7 linked regions of the Homo sapiens genome follow. The protein of the gene in region 6 interacts with the protein of the main gene of each other region in a pairwise test. Each region holds a gene or a part of one and is shown on either strand. Other genes may lie near its edges.

Region 1 (3,500 bases), on a different chromosome or scaffold from region 6:
GACTGCAGGCATTGATGACGGGGAGCCTTCCTGGCTTTGTCGACGTCATCAGGAACCTCAATTCTCCTGCACTGCTGGAAGACAGTGTGATAAGACAAGCAAAAGCAGCTGGAAAAAGAATAGTCTTTTATGGAGATGAAACCTGGGTTAAATTATTCCCAAAGCATTTTGTGGAATATGATGGAACAACCTCATTTTTCGTGTCAGATTACACAGAGGTCAGTTTTTAAAATAAGAAAATATATCATACTAGAATATCATACTAGATAGAGCCTGGCATCCCATTACTTAGTGAGAGATGATACCATTTTATATTTGGTTTTATTAATTTATAGGGAGTACTATGGACAGGTGTAAAAATTATTCACTCACATAATCAGTTAACAACCCAGAAATACAAACCTGAAGCAGGTGTGAGCAGAGTTTTATGGAACCCAAAGCTTAGAACAGCTGAGTGCCATTGAGGGGCAGAGAGGATCAGGAAGGGTGACACAGCCAAGGGACTGTCTGAGCCGAGATATGATGGGTGAGTGGGGACTCCCCAGGTGGGCAGAACAGGCTGGTAGCTTCTGCACATGGCAGAGCTGTAGGACTCCACAGCCTGTTGGTTCTGCTGCAAGCGGAGCCTCATCGTGCCCTGAGGGCAGGTGGCCGACTGGGTGGGGCCTGGTCCTGAGGGGGTTTTCCTGGAGCTTTTCCAACAAAAATTAGACCTGCATGTTAGAAAGCAGACCTGGGGCTGAGGTAGGAGCACACCAGCACACCTGCCTGGCCTGGGGTTTAGCCAGCTTCACCTCCTAGATGGCTGGGCCTTATGGAGCATCTGTAGTCCTATCCTGTTCCAAAGTGGGGCGCTTTTCAACAGTTACTTTTCAGTAATGACTGAGTTTTCCTGACTATATATGGCATCACTGAGAAACACTTCTCTTCATAGGAGATTTTTTTAGTGGGAGGGAGATGAGCTAGCTGAGGGGTCAGGGCTCACCAGGCTGACAGCTCTATTGGGGGCTGATCAACTGCTCATCTCTCCTCCGTGATGTGTTTATTTCAGAAATCAATGTGATCATTGAGTGCTGTGTCTTTTTCAGAACAGCCTTCTTGTAGGACACATGTAGATGCCCTCAGCTTCATCATCCTGCTGGTTACTTTAACGCTGGGTACTGTCCTGTCTTTAATTAACTGCCCTTTGCCCTTAGTTACCTCATGACAACTTGGGATCTATTTAACTTGCCCATTTGCTCACCTTCAGTTATGCCCATTAAGCCCAGCAGTGATCCCACAGAAAAATATTTTTGTCAGAAGAACCCTTGCTCATTTAAATTATCTGTAGAATATATTCGATCCATAGCCCAGAAACATAAAAACAATATTAGCAAAAGTTTAATCCAATGCTAATGTTCATTTATTTATTATAGACGTGGGGTCTTGCTATGTTGCCCAGGTGGGTCCTGAACTCTTGGCCTCAAGCAGTCTTCCCGCTTCAGCCTCCTCAAGTGTTGAGATGAAAGGCATGAGCTGCTGTGTCCAGCCTATTTATTTATTTTTAATGACATAGATTTTGTTGTGTTTCAACTCCCCCAAATCCTGTAACCTGAATAAACCCCTAGATTTTAAGATGACTGTTGCGTTTTCCCCGGGGAGTGAAGATCCAGGGAAATTAGGTGAGTTGTTTATACGTGTGTTTCCCCTTCAAAGGTGGATAATAATGTCACGAGGCATTTGGATAAAGTATTAAAAAGAGGAGATTGGGACATATTAATCCTCCACTACCTGGGGCTGGACCACATTGGCCACATTTCAGGGCCCAACAGCCCCCTGATTGGGCAGAAGCTGAGCGAGATGGACAGCGTGCTGATGAAGATCCACACCTCACTGCAGTCGAAGGTGAGGCTCGCCGTCGCTCACTGTCTGCTGATGTGGTTTCACGTGGATGTTCCCTAGAATAAATGCAACCGCCTGAGTTATTCAGGGTGCCTGTGTGAATGTCCACCATCAGTCTGCTAGCCAGGGGCCGCATGCCACACGGGCAGCACTGTCTCAGTGTCCACTGCACTGACTCCGTCTTCCAGCAGCCCTGCAGAACAGCAGCTCTCACTCCTACCCGTGTATGCATTCATTCAACTAATACCTCCTGAAGACCTTTTGTGCCACTCTCTCTGTTCTGTATCACTCTCTCTGTTCTGTGCCACTCTGTTCTGTGTCACTTTCTGTTCTGTGTCACTCTCTGTTCTGTGTCACTCTCTCTTCTGTGTCACTCTCTGTTCTGTGTCACTCTCTCTGCTCTGTGCCACTGTCTCTGTTCTGTGTCACTCTGTCTGTTCTGTGTCTCTGTTTCTGTTCTATGTCACTTTTTGTCCATGCATTTGGGTGCATCAGTGAAACAGTCGATAATCCCTCGTGAAGCTCACGCTCTAGCCAGGAGAGATGAGAAAGATGAGTAAATAAGTATGTGAGGAGGTGATGGGTGCTGCAGAAACTCAGAGGGCAGGAGGAGGGGCTTTCAACAGCGTGTTGAGAGAAGCCTTCCCTGAAGACGTGTGCAGGGTGAGCAGAGACTTGAAGGGAGGGAGGGGCAGACCATGTGGTCTGTGCACGAGTGTTCCAGGAGGACCAGCAGCGAGGGTCAGGCACAGCCTGCCTGGCTTGTCCCGGAGCAGCAAAGGATGTGTGGCTGCAACCCCAGGGGCAGAGAAGCCTGGTGGGTGCCCCCACATGGCTCAGAGCTCTTGCCTTTTGCTGTGTGTTGTGTTCTCACCAGAGTCCTGTGAAAGATTCCATTTGACAGATGAGGCGACCAAGGCACAGAGTAGAATGCGTCCAGAGTCTCACAGCTTGGCAGTGGCAAAGACAGAAACCAGATACAAACCGTCTGCCATCAGAGGGCAGAAATGCAGCCTGCTGTGCTCCATGAGCTGTGTACAATTCTGTGAACTTCATTTATGGCATTATTTGACTGTGACCCTGTGATCTGGCTATGAGCTCATAGGAAAAAAAAATCTAATTCATTGAGAAAGAGCTACAACTCTATAAAGTAAAGCTAAAACCGAAAATTGTCTTCTTAAGATGATGTGCTCTCTTCAGTCTGAACGCAGTTGAAATGTTTTTCCTTTGCCTTAAAGGAGAGAGAGACGCCTTTACCCAATTTGCTGGTTCTTTGTGGTGACCATGGCATGTCTGAAACAGGAAGTCACGGGGCCTCCTCCACCGAGGAGGTGAATACACCTCTGATTTTAATCAGTTCTGCGTTTGAAAGGAAACCCGGTGAGAATTTAGGAATGTTAACAGTTGGAAATTGTATTACATTTGTTTTCTATAGTCTGGTTTTAATTTTGAAAACCTATTTTTTAGAAGCTCCATAAGGTTGAAGTCCCCAAGCAATGTGAGCATGAAAAGTAATTGGGCAAAAGGCTTTTGGGATCTGAAGTTACGTTCCTTCCCGAATCCTTAAAATACAGTTATTCTTTGTCAGAATTTTGTTGTATGAATGTTGCTGCCTGGAT
Region 2 (3,500 bases), on a different chromosome or scaffold from region 6:
GCCTTCAGCCCTCATCATCCAGCAGTGGGCAACACTGAGGCTTGTGAGCAACAAATGCAGTCTAAAAAAGGCTGCTTTGCAAAAAAGGGCCCACAGTGCTCTCAACGTCTTGAAAGAAAACAGCACCAACAAAGGAGTGGCTTTTGGATGAATCCACTCAGCACCGATCTTTTGACCATCCCCTCTAGCTCTGGTCTTCCAGGCAGGGGACTGGATGAATTACTGCATGTGGGACTCTAAAGAGACCCAGCTGGCTAACCCCATTTGGACAGATCATAGTCAATGTCCAGAAATACATCCCAACTGATTACTTTATTCTTAAAAAGTAAGTTCATGATATTTTCAACTGAGAGTTAGTTCCATAAAACTATTAAGTGATTGCTAATACATAACCCCCTTTAAAAAAATAACTAGGGAGGCCGAGGCAGGCAGATCACCTGAGGTCGGGAGTTCGAGACCATCCTGACCAACATGGAGAAACCCCGTCTCTACTAAAAATATAAAATTAGCTGGGCATGGTGGTGCATGCCTGTAGTCCCAGCTACTCAGGAGGCTGAGGCAGGAGAATCACTTGAACCCAGGAGGCGGAGGTTGCAGTGAGCTGAGATCATACCATTGCACTCCAGCCTGGGCAACAAGAGTGAAACTCTGTCTCCAAAAAAACCCAAAAAACAAAAAAAAATAAAAGGCATTTCTTTAGGCATTAAACTTTTTAACATGTTAATTAACTTTAAAAATAATCTTTCTAATGTATAGTAAATTAGTTACACTGCTTTGGACTTCATTAAATATATATATATCTCAATAGGGATGATACAGCCCCCTTGGGGGCAACTGTTGGTTCTTGAATGTGAAGAAACATTACTCTTTTTTACGTATAAACCATAGATATATATATAAAGTACACAAACAGATATACATTACATTTCTGGTATTAAACTTTCATAAGAGGAATCATTAGGAAAAAATGTCTAAAAATGCTCCTTAGGGGAACAATAAGGAAAAAACCGTTGAAGAAAACACCACTTAAATAGAAAATAACAATTATAGCTTTTACCATATAACTCAGTCAGACATACAAAGATCTATCGTCATATTCTTTGATGGTTTTTGAGGTAGATGGGAGGATCTGTTCCTTCTTAAACGATCCTGACCCTGACTCTGACCCTTGGCGCTGATGCTTTTCTGGAAGATAATATTTTTCCCCTCCTTTTCTATGTTACTCTGTCAATTCTCAGTGGGCTCTCTTCTAACAGTGGCCTGGTAAGTCCAGTATCTTTATTTCCGAGACAGGGTCTTTCTCTGTTTCCCAGGCTGGGGCACAGTGACGCGATCACAACTCACTGCAACCTTGATCTTTGGGCTCAAGCAATCCTCCCTCCTCAGCCTCCTGAGAAGATGGGACTACAGGTGTACACCAGCATGCCTGGCTAATTTTTTTTTGTATTTTTTGTAGAGACAGGGTTTCACCATGTTGCCCGGGCTGGAAGTCCATTATCTTAACTTTGTAGGTGGTATTTATACCCAGTGATGGCCTGACAGTAACACCGTTCTTCCCTGTTGAGTTGAAAACTACTAAATGGGTTGTTCCCTGCCTGTTCATGTATTTTCATGTATTTCTGGGTTTGCATCTGTGTTTTCGATGACTGAGGTCACCAAGGAAACTTTCTATCATATACCACTGGCTTATGCAGAATGACTTACGGTGCAAAGTGTTTCAAAGGTCTTTTCAGAGACAAAGGATCCATCAAGGCCAAAGAGAAATATGGAAGCATAGGAGAGCATCCCTCCAAGGATGATAAGGTTGTTCATGTATGGACTCGACATCTTTATGAGCCTGACAAGAGAAAGAGACAATAGATTTAACAGAATGGTTAATTTAGTTATTCCTTCAACAGGTATTTTCTAAACGCCTGCTAGATATATATTGTTGCTCAGGCTAGAGGGGAGAGAGAGAAACAGAAATACGCCATGGGGCCTCAGGGGACACATCAGCAGGAAGTCCCACATTTCTAGTCAGATTTTCCCCAACACCCAGGTGCTCACTCTGGAACCTTCCCCTTACAGAGAAATAATGAAAAGCTCTGGTTTCCTCTACCCTCCTCCCCACCTACTGTTTGTCCTTCACTAAAAGACCTCAGACAACTATATATTTCTAATTGTTGATTTCCCTGCCTCCTTTGTCAAGTTCACCTATTACTTCCCAAGGGACAGCTTGTCACATCAGCTTCTTCATCCATTAATTTTCAGTTTAAACAAAAGCATTAAGTCAACAGGTTTTTTTTTTTTTTTTTGGCTGGAACTAAGAACTCATGTCAAATCTAGAGAATGTGACATGTAACTTCAGCCACGTTCCCCACAGTGAGGAGAAAGTCCCATACCACACTCCCCAGCCTTGAGTAGACCATGTCAAGGAGGCCTAACTGTGAGTCTCAGGGTTGCTTAGGAAAGCTCACACTGTTCCGTGCACAAAGACAGCCACACATGTGGGCAGGAATACCTCTCCCAGTCACCGGGTGACAGAGGGAGACACCAGAGTCCGCAACCCACCCACTACCCCTGTCTTCACTAGGCTGCAGTGGGGAGCAGGGAGCATTCTTTATACTTCCAGACGCTGCATCCTTCTCTGTCATTTCCTCCCGGAACCCTGTGGTGGCCTCCAGCTGCCCAGCAAGCCAGGGTCATCAGTGGGCTTGTAGGTGCCTGGCCCCCCCAGCACAATCAGCTCAGAAGGGCTTCAGGTTTTAGGCGCCCTGTGGTTGAGGGGCTCTTTTGCAGACTGTAATTACAGCCAATTGTTCCCCAACATTTTCCTTTGCATTCTCCAGTTCTGTTAACCCTTCACATTTTAAACATGCAATACGTCAAAGGGAGAGGGAAATAAGAAGCCTGCTGCTCTTCCTCTGTGAACTGCACCCCGGCTTTCAAGTTGGGAGCAGGGGGTCCAGGGCTTAGACTCGGCCACTCCATAAAAGTGACACCTTGACAAATCACTTAGCCTGGCTGAATTTCCTCACCTGTATAACTGATCCTGTTGCCTTGGACACACATGAAGCTGAGATGACGCTGGGTCCTTGGAGGTCCTTTTGTAAACCGTGAACTACTTAGGTGCCTCAATTCTTATTACTACAGCAGTCAGGGGAGGGGAGAGCCTGGGGGTTGGGGCAGGCTTCCCAGAGGAGGTGGGCCTTATAGGATGGATTTAGGAAGACAGAAGTAGGGGGAGGGATTGGGAACCATAGCAATATTTTTTTTCTATCTTTCTGCAGATTTTTAAATAGCCAAGCCAGTTAAAAAACAAGACAAAACAAAACAAAAAACTTCACCTGGATGCCAGCCTCTTGAAAAGAGTAATGGTAACTTTCCCCCAGGAGGCCAAGAGGGGGTAGTTAAGGAATTCAATGAGTTTAGTCTTATGATGGGGCAACTTGCTGTCCTGATGGGACTTCTCGAGGCATCTGGGCTGTCAATCTAACTTTGAGAGCTGATTATGTGCCCAG
Region 3 (3,500 bases), on a different chromosome or scaffold from region 6:
AAGCTTCAGCTTCCCTCCCAGGAACTCTTCGTAAAGCCAGCAGGGAATCAAGTCTCTCTTATTTGGCATCCCCACTACTAGTCTAGCGAGTGCTGTCCGAAAGAACTTTCTGCAGCGATGGAGACATACCACATATGCACTGTCATGTGGCCTCATGTGACTACTGAGCACCTGAAATATAGTTACTGCAACTGAGTTGCACTTTTAATTTTATTTAAATTAATTTAAATGTAGACACATGTGGCTAGTGGCTACCATTCTGGACAGCAAAGGCCTGGGGAGTAGAATGAGCAAGAATGTGTGTGTTTAATAGTGGTCTTTTCAGGTCTTTTGGTTTTTGGAAAACGAAATTCAGTATGTGAATAGCCCTATGGTAGAAAACAAATTCTGATGCCAAAAAAAATGTAGTTGGAAGGTTTTTTGTTTCCTTCACATTCACTATTTTTGAAATCCACGGTTCTGTGGTATTACATACATATTACTTTTGAAAGGTCACTCTTCCGTCATCATTTTATTTCAATAAGTCCTAAACCTTCTGTGGTAGCATATTGGAATAGTAATAAAGTCATGCCATGTTATTTTGGATAAGCAAAAGGATTAAGCTGGATTAAAGAGAAAATGATTCTAGAATTTTTGACCTACCTTCTCCCAAAATATAATTTTTTTGTGAGATAATTTGCTGTTCTAACTTCTCATTGATGAGGAAAAGCCTCAGTTATTTGATTTTAAAAGACAGGGTCCTCTGTACATTTGGGGGTCAATCTAATTTCCGCAAAATGTACCCAATCCATAAACAGACTCTCAAAGTTTGAAGTGGAAGATTAACCACTACTAAGACACACATACACATAAGGATGTCCTCAATCTGAATTCTCCATGGTATAAAGTCACCCACTCCAATTTCTACCCTCACATTAACCTATATTCTGCCCATTCGGGATATATATTTCCTGCTCAAATCCATCAGTTTCACTATTTCACCACTTGCACCATTTGCACCATTTCACCATTTGCAAAGCACCTTAAACACACTTAAGAGGTGAATATTATTTAAAGTTTACTAAACAATTTAAGTCAATTCTAGACCGATGAAGTACCTAATTCCTAGAGAAATACATTTCTGTTCTCTGTACATCAAAACATTGTTAGAACAGCTATAAACTCAAATGCAATTATGTTCTCAGGCAATGTTAAATTGAGCAATAAAAATGCTAAGCTCAGAAATGACTGGTTTGCTAAGGGAAAAAAAATCTCTCTTCCCACCCCCACCTCCCCACACTCCTTTCAATTGGTTAACTTCTATTAGAGAAGCCAGCATTCTCAAAATGAGGTCTGAAATAAGTATTTCTTTCCCAATTTGTTTATTTCAATGAAATCAACTTGTATTGATTTTAAAACAAATAAACTTGATAAAATTCTACTCATGCTTGGGAATCAGTCTGCTTAAGAATATTAAGCTCTACATAATAATTTCTTATCCTCACCATTAACTATTACAGGCTCATTTCCAAAGGCCTGCTATACTGAAATTCCATTGATTTTTGAAACATTCCAACAACATACTTGGAAACATTACACAAATATTTTATCTCCAACATTATTTCTTGCAATGAAATACTCTCTTGCAATATTCAAGGCATGAGAATTAAACTTCACTTAGCCCAAATATAACACCCAGCAACTGCAAAAATTGAAAAAAATGACTAGTGGTGATTAAAAAAACTGACTGGCAAAGTAAAATGTTCTATGATATACCATGTTGCTGGTGGTATGGGGAAATAGGCATTCTTATACAAAAATAAGAACTTTTGCACATTAGAAACACTCTTTTCTGAGAAAAAATTGGAAATACCTATCAAAATTCATTCATACATTCTGATACTGTAATTTCATAGTTACAAATTTTTGCTATAAACAGCCCATCAATATTGATTAAAGTATGCCTATAAAATGGAATACTATGCAGACATGAAATTAAAAAGGCAGATCTATATCCAAAATACACTAATTTGTTTTTAAGAAGGTACAAAAGGTTGCAAACTATATGAATTCATTTATATAACATTTTGCAATGTTGGCCAGGGTGTGAGGGGAAGGAGGAGGAAGTTTCTCATTTTAACGAATAACTGGTAATTGAGGAGGAGGAGGAAAGAGCAGTCTCCACCGGCTTCACATGCGGCACAGAGACCAGAAAAAAAGCAACATGGCCTTGGGAAACAGTTCTTTATGAAATCTGCTCTTGATCGTTCTATCTTGAGGATATGCCAACTTCATGAGACCCCAAAGTAAAGACTTAGAACATTTTCCCCGTATTGCCTTTGTAGAGAGACAGCCTTACTCACAGCAGATACTCAGGAGCTTGACAAATCAAAATCTAGATTTTTGTCAATTATTATGACCAGATTCTTTAAATATAAAATTCATAATTGATCATGAGTTAAGAGAGTGGCTACTCTCAAAGAAGTGAAATATCCTGCTAATTAATAAGGGGTACATCAAAATTTTTAAAACCTCATTCTTTTATATTCAAAAGTCCTGTTATTATAATTAATTGGTATTTTTCAGGTTTTTCTTTCTTGGTCACTTTGGTCCTACCCAAATCTAGATTATTTAATGGACTAGAGCAAGAGTCACCAAACATTTTCTTAAAGGGCCATATCATAAATATTTTAGGCTTTCCAAACCAAGACAAAAATCAATCAATATTGTAACTACTCAACTCTGCCATCTTACCTCTGTATTTTATCCAGCTAAAGTGTCAATTAACTGTCAGGTTTCCTGACAAAATTTAGGAATTTAATCTTCTGCAAATCTTATACTTGTAATTGGAGGCAGAGTACAAACAAAGGCAGGGGTCTCTAGAGTTGACACTCTGTGTGATGGTCATGCCACACTATCCTTGCTCACCCAAAATTTTGTGGCTAAACAAAGAGGGCCAAGACTGGAGACTCTCCAACCATCCTCTCCAGCTCTAAATGTCTATATTAGGATCAGTGTATAAGCACAAAAGCTCACTGATCTTTCAGTTATTTCTGCCTTTGTTCAGGTTTTCCACACCCAGGGCACCAATCTATCAGATTTTGAATACCAGAAGCTTAGAATGTTTACAGGTACTCTTAAAAACAATTAGGGAAAATTATTAATTCAGATAAATTTTCTCCCCTTAAAACCCAAGTTTTTAAAATTTTCAAAACCACTAGGTTTTGAGTCTGTGAAAGCTCTGAATCCCTAAACTTAAGCAGCCTTGCTGAAGTGAAAAAATCAAGCTTTATCAGCTTTTACTTAAGTCAGGGTGACTTAAGTATAAAACACATATGGCAGTCATATTTAAATTAAGAGACTAGTTAAAATATTTATTAGCCCCTATTGAAAAATATTTAATAAAGAAATGTCTGGCAGGCTAAGCCGCTTAACTAGATGAGGGACATAGCTAAAGTGATTATTTTTATCAGTCTTCTATATACATGTTGCATATTTCATGACCACAAGTACCATACAGT
Region 4 (4,110 bases), on a different chromosome or scaffold from region 6:
TATCCATTCCCACCCCACTCCCATCCTCACACAAGCGTCCTCATCAGCTGCATGCAGGCAGCTGTTCCCCTCACCCTGGCAGTGGGGCTTGGGGGTGCTCCACTGGCCCTGACTACAGATGCTCCGGGAGCTGCCCACCAGATGGAAGTCGGGGTCACACCGGAAATCCACCCGGGCTCCGTCCAGAGCTGGGAGGTCCCCACCCGTCAGGAAAACCTTCCCATTTTCCAGGGTCAAATAAGACTTGGAGCAGATTCGGACTGTGGAGAGATAGGAAAATAAGAAGAGAGGCGAGTTGAAGAAGGCTCTTTCCCTTTAAAGAGCAGGGGACTCAGGTGCAGGTTTGGGTCCACAAGCATCCTGCTCTAAAGAAAATCACATGTGAAAAGGATTTGCCTACCTATCTTCCAATCCTCCCTTACCTGTGCAAGCATCCACACATTCCCAAAAGAAAAAAAAAATTACCATTTTAGGAACCCAAGATGGGGCTATAAGCACACAAAATGGGATCTCTTCAAAGTCAGCTACAGTGGGCGGTTCTCTGGCTTTGAAATATGTAGATGTATATAACTTTGGATGCACAATCAGATTTGCTTTTCTTATTATAGTTGGCTTCTATTAATATTAAACTGGCTTTTGTTTCTTGGGCATATGGTCTCTGGGTTGGTGACAGAGGTATTCAAAAATGTGATGAAATCATTTTAGAATTTTTTTGTCATCATCTGCCACTAATGATCCTCAAAGAGAATAACTGACAAGATGAATTATCAATGTTATAGGCCAATGATCAGTGGCCTAATGAAGGGAGGATGAAATGAACTGTGCAGGCTGCTAGCTCTACTACCTCCAACCGCACAGAGCAAAATTGCTCTTATGTAGTAGTCATTCAATAAATGTATTTGTGAATTTTGGTATACTGGATTTAAAGTGCTGACTTGCAAGCAGTAATGCTAAGTTTGCGGCAGGAAAAGGAATAGTCTTGAAGAGGGGAGGGGCTTCCGAGGCTACTCACCACAGCGGCTGGGTGTGTCCATATCTGTCCAGGAGCCGTTGGCCAGGCACTTGCGGACCTTGGGCCCCACCACCTCGCGCTCCCCCCGGCACACATACTCAATCTCATAGTCCACTGGCAGGAAGTTGATAGCCTTCACCTGGTCCCGAGTCAGGCCCCGGTACCTGATGCCCCCTTCCCAGGGCGGGTGTATGATCTGGCAACCTAAGGGGTGAGTCGGGGAGGCATACAGAGAGGAATGGTGGGAAAGAGGAAAAGGCAGGCTCCCCAGTGGGAGGAAGGGGAGAGTAGGGCGTGGTCTGTGGGCAGGCTGGGGACAGAGGAAGAGGGATGGGGCACTAGAGGGTGGGAGTGGGGACAGGTACAGATCCCCTGGCTAAAGGACAGAGAGTAAAGGGCCAGGGTTAAAGCTGATGAGAGAACCCACAAGTGGGGAGGGAAGGGTGCTGGGTGGAGGTAAGAAAGAAAAGTAATTAAGAAATCATGAAGGGTATGATATGTGGGTGGAGCTTTTCTTTAAAAAAAAAGGCTAAATGAGGATATTCGAGTTGAATTAGGATAGGAGGATAAAGGGAGGCTAATAAGATCATCTGGACAGCAAAGTGGGACCAAGAAAAGGGAGTAATTGAGGTAGTAATGTGGGGCTGGGAAAGGGGATTGAGGCGGAGAAAATGCACAGGAAGGTGGTATAGTGTAGCAATGTGGGCAGAGAAAAGAGGTGCTGGATAGTAACGTGGGGTGACAGAAGGAGGTCAGCAGTAGTAAAGTCGGGCCGAGCAGAAGGGGTTGCCAGACCGGGATGATATGTGGGACTGATGGGATAGTGATGAGGACCAGAAATGAGGAGATGCAGGGAAAGGGAAGTGGAGCGAAGGAGGGCCGGAGGTCGTCGAAGAAGGATGCACCTTCTGAGGTGGCGTTGGGGGTCTGCGCCCCGCCCGCGCCCGGGGGGCGGAGGAAGAGTGGCGCCAGTAGCAGCAGCAGCAACATCTAAGTGAGAGGCGGCCATGAGGACTGGACCGAGCCCCGCCGGCGCGGCCCGCACCCGGAGACTACTCGACCTCTTGCCGGTTGCCTCGCAGGCTCCGACCGGGCTCAGCCTGGGGACCAAGAGAGCGCCCCGCGGAGGAGGCGGGGGCGGAGCCCCGCGCGGGGTGGGGGGAGAGGAGGAGAGAAAGCCTGTCCCCACCCTCCTCCTGCCTCCCTCGGCCCCCAACCCTCCCGGGACTCCACCTCTCACCACCTCCTCTCCCCCGGCCCCCGCGGCTCGCAGAAGCCTGGCTTACCCACGCTCCCGGCATCGGCCGCCTCAGCGCTCCCCGATTCCATCCCCGCGGTTCCTCCTCTCCCCCAGCCCCGCTTCCCCCAGCTGGGCCCTGCGCCCACTGCCCCCTCCCCCACCACGCCGCGCGCCCCCTCTCCGAGCCCTGCTAACCCGGGGCCCTGGCTCTTACCTCGGCGCGCGGGCCCGGCTCCCCGGCTCTCCCCGGGCCTCAAGGCCCCAGGCCCGGCCGCTCCTCCCCGCTCCCCCCTCCCTTCTCCTCCACCTTTCTCCTCCTCCCGTCCCTCCTCCCCTCGAATCCAGGCTCCAGCCTGGCCAGGGTCTCTCCCCTCCTCTCTCGCTTCCCCCAAACCCCACCCCTGTCTCTTCTTCCCCGGGGCGGCGGCAGCCACGGGAGCGGGGAGCGGGGAGCCGGGAGGGAAGGAGGCGGCGCCGGGGACCAGGGAGAGCTCCCGGGCGGAGGGAAGAAGGAGGGTGCAAGGGAAGGCAGGGCGGGGGGAAGAGAGGGGAAGACCGGGGAGAGGGCGCCTCCCACAACCCGAGCCCCGGGAGCCGCCCCGGATCCCAGCCCCGCCCTGGACCGCCCACAGCGCGGTGGGGCGGGCGGTGGAGAGGCGCGGGGCTGAGAGGTGGGGGAGAGGGAGGTGCCCTGGTGCACACGCACTCGTCGGGGGGCGCCGGTCACTGCCGAGGGACCTGCGGGCCAAACAACTGGAAGCTGGGGTGGGGGAGAGGGAACCCGAGCCAAAGGCAGAGGAGCTGGCGCTGAGACAGGGAGTCTGGGATGAAGGTGGAGAAAGACGGCTGCACAAAGAGAAGGCAGCCCTAGATCCGGGTGAGAGGAGAGAGGCAGAGGCAGATGCCCAGGAGAACTGCGACCGGAGGGCGAGAAAGAAGCCTGGGTCAGAAGGAGGTGGGGGAGGGGGACTGAGGACCACCTAAGCGCAAGAAGGGTTGGGTGTAGAAGAGATTTCTGGGAGACTAGAGCAGCTCCATGGTCCAGCAGCATTGCTACTCGCCTGCTCTGCAGGGAACGCGCAGAACGGATTGGAGGCAAAAAACAAAACAGGGAGGGGGACATCAAGGAGAGAAATTGAAGTACGAAGGGAGTAAAAGGACAAGAGAAAAGAACCTCAGGGTGGTTTAGAAGCCAGTATTACCTGATGTACTCCAGCAGAGCCTAGCAAACAGTATTTCTTGACCAAGGGCAAACTGGAAGCTCTAAAGACAGCAGGTACAGACCTTTTTGACGGCTCCAGAAGCTCTTGGCTATACCTTGAAGTGGAGGGGTGTGTGTGTGTGTGTGTGTGTGTGTGTGTGTGTGTGTGTGTGTGTGTGTTGTGCTGTTGTTGTTCGTAGGCCTGAGTTTGGGCTGGGAGAGGAAACAGTGGGCTCCTTGTTGGGGGGGACAAAAAAAAAGCTGCTTTCTGGCTGGTCCTAGGGGGAAAAATGGTAGGAAGAAACCAAACACTGAGAGACTGACTAGAATTGAGATTCTCAACCTCCAACCCTTTTTTACAATAAATATTTTGTAATGACACTTTTACTGTCCTAAATTGAGATTCATAGATGAGGCTCACGCCTGAAATCCCAGAACTTTGGGAGGCCGAGGCGGACTGATCACTTGAGCTCAGGAGTTTGAGACCAGCCTGGCCTGGCCAGCATGGCGAAACCCCATCTCTACTAAAAATAGAAAAATTAGCGTGGTGTGATGGTGTGCGCCTGTAATCCCAGCTGAGACACCAGAATCGCTTGAACCCGGGAGGCAGAGGTTGCAGTGAGCCAAGATCGCACCACTGCACTCCAGCCTGGGTGA
Region 5 (3,500 bases), about 50 Mb from region 6:
CCAGGCTGGTCTCAAACTCCTGGCCTCATGTGATCTGCCCTCCTCGGCCTCCCAAAGTGCTGGGATTACAGATGGGAGCCACTGTGACCAGCTTTACCCATTATTTCTTAGTAAAATTTTATTACAGAATTTGTATTTCTTAGATGTGCTGTAGACACGTATCACTATTAGCACTTAAAACAGTGATATATAGTAGTACTTGGTAAGTATTTGTTGAATAAATTATCAAATTTACGAGCTAGAAAGGCACACTTGAGAAATAAACTAAAGAGAAACTCTTTTTGGAGTCTCGCTCTGTAGCCCAGGCTGGAGTGCAGTGGTGTGATCTTGGCTCACTGCAACCTCTGTCTCCTGGGCTCAAACCATTCTCCCACCTTAGCCTCCTGAGTAGGTGGGATTACAGACATGCACCACCACGCCCAGATAATTTTTGTACTTTTACTAGATATGGGGTTTTGCCATGTTGGCCAGGCTGGTCTTGAACTCCTGACCTCAAGTGATCCGCCCACCTCGGCCTCCCAAGGTGTTGGGATTACAGGCATGAGCCACTGAGCCCAGCCAAGAGACTCTTATCTTAAATGCTTATCCATTGCAAATGTGCATTCATATTGTCTAAAAAGCACTAATACAGTTTTGGTGGGCCCAATGCAAGATCCTCATTTGTTGGGTCACTACTTGAACATAAAAGTTTACCTTAAGATACTGCAGTGTGGGGCCAGGCACGCTTGCTCACTCCTGTAATCCCAACACTTTGGGAGGCTGAGGTGGTTGGATCACCTGAGGTCAGGAGTTAGAGACCAGCCTGAACAACATGGTGGAACCCTGTCTCTACTAAAAAATACAAAAATTAGCCGGGCACAGTGACGGGCACCTGTAGTCTCAGCTACTCGGGAGGCTGAGACAGGAAAATCACTTGAACCCAGGAGGCGGGAGTTGCAGTGAGCTGAGATCACACCATGGCACTCCAGCCTAGGCGACACAGCAAGACTCCATCTCAAAAAAAAAAAAAAGTTACTGCAATGTGTTGTAATCATTTTTATTGCAGAAGCCTTTCCTCCTTGCTGGATGTTTTTCTTCATGTCACAAAGGAAGTGTCTCAGGCTTTTGCACCATGAAAATAAGATGAAGTTTGTTATTCCAAAATTTAACTTATTTAAAATGTAGATGCTAAAAAATTACCTTAATTGTTTAAAAAAAAAATCTGTACGTATTGCTGTCATCCTCCAGCTTCATGTTCTTTCACCAAGCTCCTCTTGGTTTTGGAGACTTGTCTTGATTTTAGTTAAAGAAAAATAAGTGATTGGTTGGTGTCCTACAGAAAACAATTTTGTCTTGACTGACCTGTCCAGTAATTAATTTTAGAAGTATTAGTTACTATATACAGGTCAAGAATGAGTGATGGCACTCTGTACTTTAGTGCCTTAGGTTCTAATGCAGCCAGCAATGTAGTATGCTTAGAGATGGGGATCAGGGGTCAGGATGGCTTCCCAGATTTCTGCCTTTGAAGGAAACTGAAGATATCAGAGGCAAAAATTTGAGGTTGAGGTAAAAGAGACTGAAATATTCAGTGTTCATTTCAGAGCAAGAGTTGCCTTTATTAGGCCTCAAGTATAGAGACACGTCTATCATCTGAACTTTAAAAGTACTTTAATAGTTTACTGATGACACGATGTTGAAATTCTGTAACTTGGCCGGGCACGGTGGCTCACGCCTGTAATCCTAGCACTTTGGGAGGCCGAGGCAGGCGGATCACGAGGTCAGGAGATCGAGATCATCCTGGCTAACATGGTGAAACCCTGTCTCTACTAAAAATACAAAAAATTAGCCGGGCGTGGTGGCGGGGCGCCTGTAGTCCCAGCTACTCGGGAGGCTGAGGCAGGAGAATGGCGTGAACCCAGGAGGCGGAGCTTGCAGTGAGCCTAGATTGCACCACTGCACTCCGGCCTGGGGGACAGAGCGAGACTCCGTCTCAAAAAAAAAAAAAAAAAAAAGAACAAATTCTATACTTGCTAGAGACTGCTTTTTATTGTTGTTATGAAAGTTGGCTGAGTCTGGTGGCTCACACCTGTAATCCCAGCACTTTGGGAGGCTGAGGTGGGTGGCTTGCTTGAGCTCACGAGTTTGAGACCAGCCTGGACAATAGTGGTGAAACCCCATCTCTACAAAAAGACAAAAAAGCAAGAATTAGCTGAGCATGGTGATGTGCGCCTGTGGTCCCAGCCACTTAGGAGACTGAGGTAGGAGGATGGCTTGAGCTGGGGGCAGAGGTTGCAGTGAGCTGAGATTGTGCCATTGCACTCCAGCCTGGGTGACTGAGCCAGAACTTGTCTTAAAAAAAAGAAAAGAAAAGGAAAAAAGAAAATCATGATGCCAAAATAAAACTACATTTTATATGTTTGTTCATGGAAATTAGCTCAAAGCAAAAACAGCTTGGGCAATTTTTTGAAAAAGGTTTTGCTTTAAATATTTCTTTCCTCACTCATGAAACTTAGTTGTTCTGTGTACTTTTTATGGCTTCATTTTCACACTTTGTTCTACCATATTAATCAAATGTGAATATGTAATTTGTGTTTTGAGTTAACCCTTAAATAAAAAGGAATGTGGCCCCCGTCCAACACTGACATCATCTGAGTGTTACATTCGTGTCAGATTATCAGTGGCAGTGTAATGTGTTAAAACACAGACTTGAGCTCCAGGAATGCCTAGATTTCAATCCTGGCCCTGTCTCTTAATAATTATGTGATCTTGTGCAAGTCCTGAGCCTCAGTTTCCTTAACTTGAAAATTGGGATAATAGTATCTATCTTGGAGTTGGTATGAAAATTAAACACAATTTGGCTGGGCACGGTGGCCCACGCCTGTAATCACAGCACTTTGGGAGGCCAAGGCGGGTGGATCATCTGAGGTCAAGAGTTCGAGACCAGCCTGGCCAACATGGTGAAACCCTGCCTCTATTAAAGATACAAAAAATTAGCTGGGTGTAATCCTGTAATCCCAGCTACTCAGGAGGCTGAGGCAGGAGAATCACTTGAACCCAGGAGGTGGAGGTTGCAGTGAGCCAAGATAGCGCCATTGCACTCCAGCCTGAGCAACAGGGTGAGACTCCATCTAAAAAAAAAAAAAAAGTGAACACATTTATAGGGCTTAACACAGTGTCTTGCCTGTAGTAAATAACTGTACCATTAATGTGAAGAAATGAAATATAGATCAACAATGTGACCTAGACACATTTGCTTTGTACCCTTAAATCCTGACCTTTATTAAATAACAATACCTAATGTTTGACATCCATTTGTAGGTTACAAACTACTTGCACATATTAATAGATACCACATAGCAGTTCAAGTACAAATGAGAAATCTGTCTTCCTCACAATCAAAGACTATTGTTATGCCTTTTTTCCCTTTCCACATGTGAGTCAGTTGTTTCAGTTTGTGGCCCTTCACATTAATGTCATAAAGCTGCCACCCGCTTCCACTGAGGTGGTCTGTTAAAGAGGTA
Region 6 (3,500 bases):
CTGATCAATACATACATGCAGGCCTCCCGCTGTGGGCTCCAAATGGGAAGAGGGCTCAGTTGGTTTTGCAGAATACAGCATCAATATGACATATGCTTCATTACCTTAGAACAGGAAGATTTGCTGCGTGGTGGCATTCCATGTCACCCCACATGGAATTAGGCACTTTGCTTTTCCCCGAGGCTCCAGAGTGATGGTGGTTGGTAGGACATGATCCATATTCTTCTACTAAAGCTGGAAGAGTGGGTGTGTCAGACAGGGATGAGAGTGTGGAGATTGGGCAGACCCTCTTCCACCATCCTCTCTGACCCATTGCTGGAGGTGTGCCCTGTTCATTGATTGGACATGGCACCACATTCATCCCAAATGGCATCAATTGGTGGTTTTCAATTTGCAGTAGCAAAGTACCTGGAAGTCATGTGCTTTGTATGAAACACCTTGGAATGCTGATAAGTTTAATTCTATTCTGTAAAAGAGGAAGACTTTTGTTAGCTGAAAAGCCAACTATATTATCCATGCATTATGCTTCAGTCACAACCAAAACTCCGGCTGTCAAGTTCATCAACTCCTGATGCCTCCCAAGTCTGCTCCTGAGCCCCTCTGGTCCCTTTTCTCTGTGAATATGCGACACCAGCCTCCCAGAGCCCCACGCAGAAATCCTAGCATTACCCTCAACTCCTTATCTCCCTGCTTGTCCCATACCCACTTTTGCCCCACACCTATCCAAGGACCAAGGACCATGAAATTGACTTGCAGTTTAGCTCCTAATTCTGAACAGGTCTCTCCATCCTCGTTTCCACTATCTTCGTTCAGATGACCACAATTTCTAACCTAAATTACAGCCAAAACATCACTCTCCTCTGAGCTCTCTTCTACACCATACACTTTCTAGAACACCAGTCCAATAGGGTCATGTCTCTGGGCCCAACCTCTCAGGGACTCTCCAGCTGACAAGACACAATCTGGCCTGTAAATGTCCCTGCAGTTTAATTATCCTCAACGTTACTGCCATACCCTACATTTTTGGCCAAACAGAATTGTTTGCTGTTTGATGATTTGATACCATGTCATATTGTCTGTCTGGAACATCCCCCCACCCCTCTCATTTAGCAGGCTAAGTCCTCCTTCTACTTCATCCCAGATGATACCCACTTCAGGAAGTCTTTCCCTTCTGTGGGATGAGATGCCCATTCTGCAGGGCTTTCACTCCCTGCATCCTGCCAAACCTCATCATCTCTTACCTGGATTCCTGCTACAGCCTCCCAGTTGGTGTCCCGCTTCCACTCTGGGCCCCTCCTCTCCGTTCTCCACAGTGCTGTCAGAATCACCTATTCGAAAGGCGAATCTGATCATGTGGTTCCTGCTGCCCTTAGGATCATGTATAAACTCCTAGCATGACTTTTAAGGCCCTCTATGATCTTGCCTATTGCAACCTCCCCAGACTCAACCCTTGCCAGGTCCCTCTGCATCAGCTATCCAGAATCTCTTTGAGGCCCTCCACCTGCTGTCTACCTCTCTACCTCTGTGCTTTGCATATACTGCTTCCAATGTCTAGACCTTCTGCTGACTCCTAGTTCTTTACCTGGCTAATTCCTACACATCCTTCAGTTGTTTGTCTGTTGAACATCACTTCCTCTAGAAAGCCTTCCCTGAATACCTGAACTAGGTTATGTATCTCTCTCCCTGTTCCATTTCCTACTCCCTATCACCCTTAGATGTAATTGCTTGATTAATTGGCTGTTGTTTCTCCTAGAATGTGAGCTACAGAACCATGTATATTTTGTTCCTGCCTATATTTCTAGAACTATATAGAACAATGCTTAATAAATATTTATAGAATCAAGAATGAATGAATACCCATTTCTGTTTCGATGACTAGAAGGTAGCAAGCCTGGTTAACTGAAGTGTGTGGTGCATGGGTCGTGCTTAAGAAGTGTTTGTTGAATGAATAAATAAATGATGGATCAGCTCTGTTCAAGCTCATCTTATTATGCATTTTTAAAAAATTGTGTTTGCTCATTTGTCCTACCAGCTGTAAAAACTTGCTAGCAAAAGAGTGGCAGAAGGCCCAACATTTTTAGAAAATTCTTAGCCGTAAACCTTAAAATCCCGAGTTGGAAAATTCTCATTATTAAATGCCAGGAGTTGGTCTTCTTCCTGGAGACCTCTGCAAGAGGCCCTCTCACTGACACCTTGTGTCCATTTTTCCTGGCCAGAGCCTGGCCACCCAGTGGCTCCACCGCCCTGATGGATCCACTGAATCTGTCCTGGTATGATGATGATCTGGAGAGGCAGAACTGGAGCCGGCCCTTCAACGGGTCAGACGGGAAGGCGGACAGACCCCACTACAACTACTATGCCACACTGCTCACCCTGCTCATCGCTGTCATCGTCTTCGGCAACGTGCTGGTGTGCATGGCTGTGTCCCGCGAGAAGGCGCTGCAGACCACCACCAACTACCTGATCGTCAGCCTCGCAGTGGCCGACCTCCTCGTCGCCACACTGGTCATGCCCTGGGTTGTCTACCTGGAGGTAGGTGGGCCCCCTGCTTGCTCCAGCACTTTCTCCAGCAGGGCCCTGCACTGGACACTGGGGACTCTAGCTCCCCACTGGCTTTTACCAATGAGTTTCCTGGTGCTTCCCCAGGTGGTTTTTCCTTCACTCTGGGCTTACTTTTTCTCCTTACGAAATGGGTAGATTGTTTCCTTAATAATCCCAACTACCATTTGTAAAGTGCTTACTAAGTGCTGGGCCTCACGTAGGGACTTTAAATATAGCATTTTCCTATATAACCCTCACAGCAGCTTAGAGGCTGGCATTATTGCCACCATTTTGCAGTTGATAAACCAGGTGGTCAGAGATGTTAAGTAACTGCTGCAGCATCACACGGCTGGCAAGTCCAAGCTGGAATTCTGGCCTCAGAGTTAGTTCCTTAGGTCATATTGGAAATAGGAGTAACCGGCAAGGATCCCCAAGGAGGGGCATGTTTATGCTCCCAGGCCCCTGAAACCTTCACTCCCATCTCCCCACTTCAGAAATGGGTCTGCTGCTTTATGCTCCCCATATCCCCTCTCCTTCCCACAGCTTATCCTGGGGCCCTGTCCAGGACCTGCAGGTAGAGGCTGCCATGGACTGTGCTGTAGCCCTTTTGTTAGGAAGAATTGTGTAGTCACTCATTTCTTGGCCCAGCTCTGCACCTCAAAATGGGGAGTAGGCAGCACAGTCTAGACACTGTGCCTGGTGCATTGCTGACACAGACCCAGTGAATACTCTTGGTAACCCTGGGAGTCCATGCTACTCTTCTCACTTTACAAAATAGGAAACAGGCCGAGCACGGTGGCTCACGCCTGTAATCCTAGCACTTTGGGAGGCCGAGGCAGGCAGATCACGAGGCCAGGAGTTCAAGACCAGCCTGGCCAACATGGTGAAACCCCATCTCTACTAAAAATGCAACAATTAGCCAGGTGTGGTGGCATATGCCTGTAATCCCAGATACTTGG
Region 7 (3,500 bases), on a different chromosome or scaffold from region 6:
ACGAAGACCAAATTAATATTGCCAGTACTAGGTTAGATACTCCGTAGCTACCTGCAGATCCAGGAGGCTCAAGTGAACCAAGCCTACTATTATCTACTGAGTTCTCCCTGGATCAATGTTTCTCAATCCTAATTGCACAGCTGAATCACCTGGGAGCATATTTTAGCATATCAATTCTGGCACTCTGTCCAGACCAGTTGAATCAGAATCTCTTAGGATGGGGTCTAAGTATCTTCTTTAGGGCCCCTTAGGCAATTCTATGGGCAAACAGGGTGAGAATCACTGATCTAGTACCTATGTCTGTTCACCAGTACCTGTGTCTGACTCATCTCATCATCCTCTAGTATAAGGCACCTGGAATTTCTCCTAGAAACAGATGATGATGGGAAAATCCCACTATATCTTGCAGAAAGCACCAAAGAAAATCTTCCAGAGTCAAAATGTGATGTTTAAACTATTTTAAATGCTTTACACTAAAAGCCCAGACTTCACCACTATGCAATATATATATGTAACAAAACTGCACTTGTATTCCCTAAATCTATAAAATAATAAATGTTTCAAAAGGCAATAAACAAATAAATAAAATGCTTACCTGTTTAACTGATCAAATAACCAAAAGGAAAAACAAAACAAAGAAAACCCTCTCCTTTTTCCTCTACATCCTTTTCTTGATGAATAGTGGGGTTCTGCAGTAAGATGAAAAAAATGTTCAGCCAAGAATGAAAATCATTCTGTCATGGCAAGGGGAATAACAGCCAAAATAAGAAATTTAAGAGCAGCATTCCAAAAATCTGCTTGCAATGAGGAGGTAACTCAGATTGGAAGCTGCTGTAATGGAACTAAAGGAGAAAAATACATAAGAATATATTTTTAAAGTGTGTTTCAAATGGGTTTAGCAGTGCATTAGTCATCTATGTCAAGAGTTTAACATGTTTAAACAAAGAAACACAGTCACAATGACTTTCAATTTTCAGCACCTTCTGAGGTACTTACTTAAAGCAGTATATAAAGAACAATCACTGAATAAGTAATGCAACTCACAATAAGGTCAAATCAAGAACTCTAGTTGTGATTAGAATGGAGAAGAGTATTTCATTCTATTTAGACCAAAATTCAGCTAATTTCTAAGCAACGACTAAGTGAAAAAGACTTAATGTTCCCCAAATGTTATAAAAGGTAGTTCACACATCCTAACTGTATATTGCGTATAGTAAATTAAGTTGATAAAATAAGAAAAAACTCCAGATTATAATGTACAAGTCCCATAATAACCATGAAGGGTTATCACTGTAGTAAAAGAAAAACAGCCAAGCAATAATCAGTTTAACATCAAGGTCCTCTCCCCAACACACACACCACACTATAAACACTAAATTAATCCAGCAAGGTCCGAATTAGGTCAGAAGACACATGGGACTTCATCTGGTGGGAAGAAATAAGAGGGGCAGAAAAAGCAGCAGCAACCTTCAGAGCTTCATTTCCATTTGTCCAGTCGCTGATGACCAGACGACCTTACAGAGGATGTGTCTTAGTAAGTCTGTTCCAACTTAGAACACTTCCCTTGAAATCCAAAAGCTTTTTAAAAATTGAAAACTGGGTACCAATATTTATTAGAATAGCCCGACTATTGCTGTTTTAGATGCTCTATTCAATCACTCACAATCAACTGGGTATTTAATTAGTACCATCTGATGTAGAGATAAAGATATAAAGGACTTCCAGTTAAAGATGACGGATTGAACACATCCATTTACCCTGGCTATCTCCCAAAACTCCACTGAAATGACACTAAAAGAATGTTTTTAACCTACAATAACAAAGAGAGGAGACAACCACAATGATCTCTTCAAAGCTGAGAAAAAGCAAAATCTTATGGCAGCTGTGAGAGAAGCACAAAATAAAATATTTGCACCCAAACATCCCCAAAAGACTCAGGGGTTAGCAGCTCCATGCACACCTGGAAGTAGGGAGGAAAGGGGAGCTAAAATAAGTAGGTTCCAGTAAGAGTTTTTCGAAAAACAATTAGATTCCCCACCCCCACCCCCGCCACCAACTTCCTGTCTCTGGCCTCTACTCATTCTACTATAGGTTCAGATATTTATTCTTTGGAGGGTGAAAGAGATGGTCCCTGAACTGGGGAATATAAGCACAGTGGACATGGATTCTACACTGGAAACAGGAGCTTAAGCAAAGGTTTATATACTGTATATAGAGACTTCTATATTCTCACCTTCTTTACTCAGAGAGCAATTAGAAGATTCTTCTGTAGGATATCTGATGAGACCAAAAGAAGAGACCTAAAGATATTGACCTTGGTCCTAAAACTCAACTGCCCAGCCAAATCACCCAAATTACAATTGATAAACACGTACTTCAGGCTAAGAGCTTCCAATCAGCTTCGTAGTGCCCCCTCTTAAACACGTACAGAAAAAAGAGCAAAACATGACCAGAAATTTGAGGTAAGCCTGTAATATGCCAGAAAACAGAACAGTCTGAAGGAAACTATGCAGGAAGAAGCAAACTCAAAAAAATTACTAATATTTTCAGAGAGATATTAAAACTATATTACACTCATGAAACAAAAACAGGATGCTAGAAAAAAAGAACATTCAGACCTCAAAAAGAAGCTTCTAGAAATTAACATATGAAACAAATGAAAAATGCAATAGCAGCAAGATAAAGTGGAAGTGATCTCCCAGAAATAGAACAAGAAGAAAAAGAGGTAGAAAATAGAAGGGGAGAAAATTAGAGGATTAGTCTAGGAGGTCCAACATCCAAATAGGACAGAAAAAAATGAAGGTAAAGAAAACAAAAAACAAAAGAAAATTTCCCCAAACTCAAGGACCAGATTGAAAGGTATACAGAAAATTTCCAGATTGAAAGGGTACCCAGGAAATAGTTTAAAATAGACATATACCAGAGCATATTGTTGTGAAATTTCAGAGCAAGCAAGAGATCATAAGAACTTTCAGAGAAGAAAAGCAGGATTCAAGAAGAATCAGAATAACATCTGATTTCTCAACACCAACAACAAGAACAAGACTTGGAATAGGGAGAAACAGAAAAATTCTGAGGATAAATGATTTCCAAACTACAATTCTACACTAAGCCAAATGATCAAATTAAGTGCAAGAGAAAAATAAGATTTTCATACCTGTAAGAGCTCAAAAAATTAACCCCCAATACATCATTTTTTCCAGAAAATTATTAAACTTGCTCTACCAAAATGAAAAAAAAAAAAACACCAAGGAAGAGAAAGACATGACATCTCAAAAACCGAGGATCCAACGTAAAAGGAGACAGGATTCACCAGGATGATGGTGAAGGGAGACTATATTGATGTCCACTGTTTCAAAGGCCCAGAAAATACTAGTCCAGATTGAAGATCAGAAAGCTTTGGGAGAAATGCCTCTGAGAACAAGAATCTGATATGACACATGAAGTGTTTGAACAGACTGAGTGAAGAAACAGATCTTGGGGAAAGTACAGGGATAAAT

Evidence for each region.
Region 1: the proteins of DRD2 (region 6) and PIGG interact in a two-hybrid assay, tested with the Homo sapiens proteins (one large-scale study listed by BioGRID and IntAct).
Region 2: the proteins of DRD2 (region 6) and GABBR2 interact in a two-hybrid assay, tested with the Homo sapiens proteins (one large-scale study listed by BioGRID and IntAct).
Region 3: the proteins of DRD2 (region 6) and TSPAN3 interact in a two-hybrid assay, tested with the Homo sapiens proteins (one large-scale study listed by BioGRID and IntAct).
Region 4: the proteins of DRD2 (region 6) and GABBR1 interact in a two-hybrid assay, tested with the Homo sapiens proteins (one large-scale study listed by BioGRID and IntAct).
Region 5: the proteins of DRD2 (region 6) and RTN3 interact in a two-hybrid assay, tested with the Homo sapiens proteins (one large-scale study listed by BioGRID and IntAct).
Region 7: the proteins of DRD2 (region 6) and TSPAN7 interact in a two-hybrid assay, tested with the Homo sapiens proteins (one large-scale study listed by BioGRID and IntAct).

The regions. Positions count from the first base shown.
Region 1 is NC_000004.12:505,710-509,209, forward strand, and holds part of PIGG (GPI ethanolamine phosphate transferase 2, catalytic subunit), read left to right. Parts: intron 1-8; coding exon 9-218; intron 219-1,695; coding exon 1,696-1,884; intron 1,885-3,119; coding exon 3,120-3,261; intron 3,262-3,500.
Region 2 is NC_000009.12:98,383,936-98,387,435, forward strand, and holds part of GABBR2 (gamma-aminobutyric acid type B receptor subunit 2 precursor), read right to left. Parts: intron 1,838-3,500; coding exon 1,705-1,837; intron 1-1,704. UniProt on the Homo sapiens protein: Component of a heterodimeric G-protein coupled receptor for GABA, formed by GABBR1 and GABBR2. Within the heterodimeric GABA receptor, only GABBR1 seems to bind agonists, while GABBR2 mediates coupling to G proteins.
Region 3 is NC_000015.10:77,047,110-77,050,609, forward strand, and holds part of TSPAN3 (tetraspanin-3), read right to left. Parts: intron 1-3,500. UniProt on the Homo sapiens protein: Regulates the proliferation and migration of oligodendrocytes, a process essential for normal myelination and repair.
Region 4 is NC_000006.12:29,630,384-29,634,493, forward strand, and holds the start of GABBR1 (gamma-aminobutyric acid type B receptor subunit 1 isoform a precursor), read right to left. Parts: upstream 2,801-4,110; 5' UTR 2,467-2,800; intron 2,400-2,466; exon of another isoform or gene 2,314-2,399; coding exon of another isoform or gene 2,299-2,313; intron 2,003-2,298; coding exon 1,918-2,002; intron 1,219-1,917; exon of another isoform or gene 1,217-1,218; coding exon 1,013-1,216; intron 1,007-1,012; exon of another isoform or gene 261-1,006; coding exon 75-260; intron 1-74.
Region 5 is NC_000011.10:63,684,500-63,687,999, forward strand, and holds part of RTN3 (reticulon-3), read left to right. Parts: intron 1-3,500. UniProt on the Homo sapiens protein: May be involved in membrane trafficking in the early secretory pathway. Inhibits BACE1 activity and amyloid precursor protein processing. May induce caspase-8 cascade and apoptosis.
Region 6 is NC_000011.10:113,423,399-113,426,898, reverse strand, and holds part of DRD2 (D(2) dopamine receptor), read left to right. Parts: intron 1-2,216; 5' UTR 2,217-2,247; coding exon 2,248-2,532; coding exon of another isoform or gene 2,533-2,536; intron 2,537-3,500. UniProt on the Homo sapiens protein: Dopamine receptor whose activity is mediated by G proteins which inhibit adenylyl cyclase. Positively regulates postnatal regression of retinal hyaloid vessels via suppression of VEGFR2/KDR activity, downstream of OPN5.
Region 7 is NC_000023.11:38,568,042-38,571,541, reverse strand, and holds part of TSPAN7 (tetraspanin-7), read right to left. Parts: intron 1-3,500. UniProt on the Homo sapiens protein: May be involved in cell proliferation and cell motility.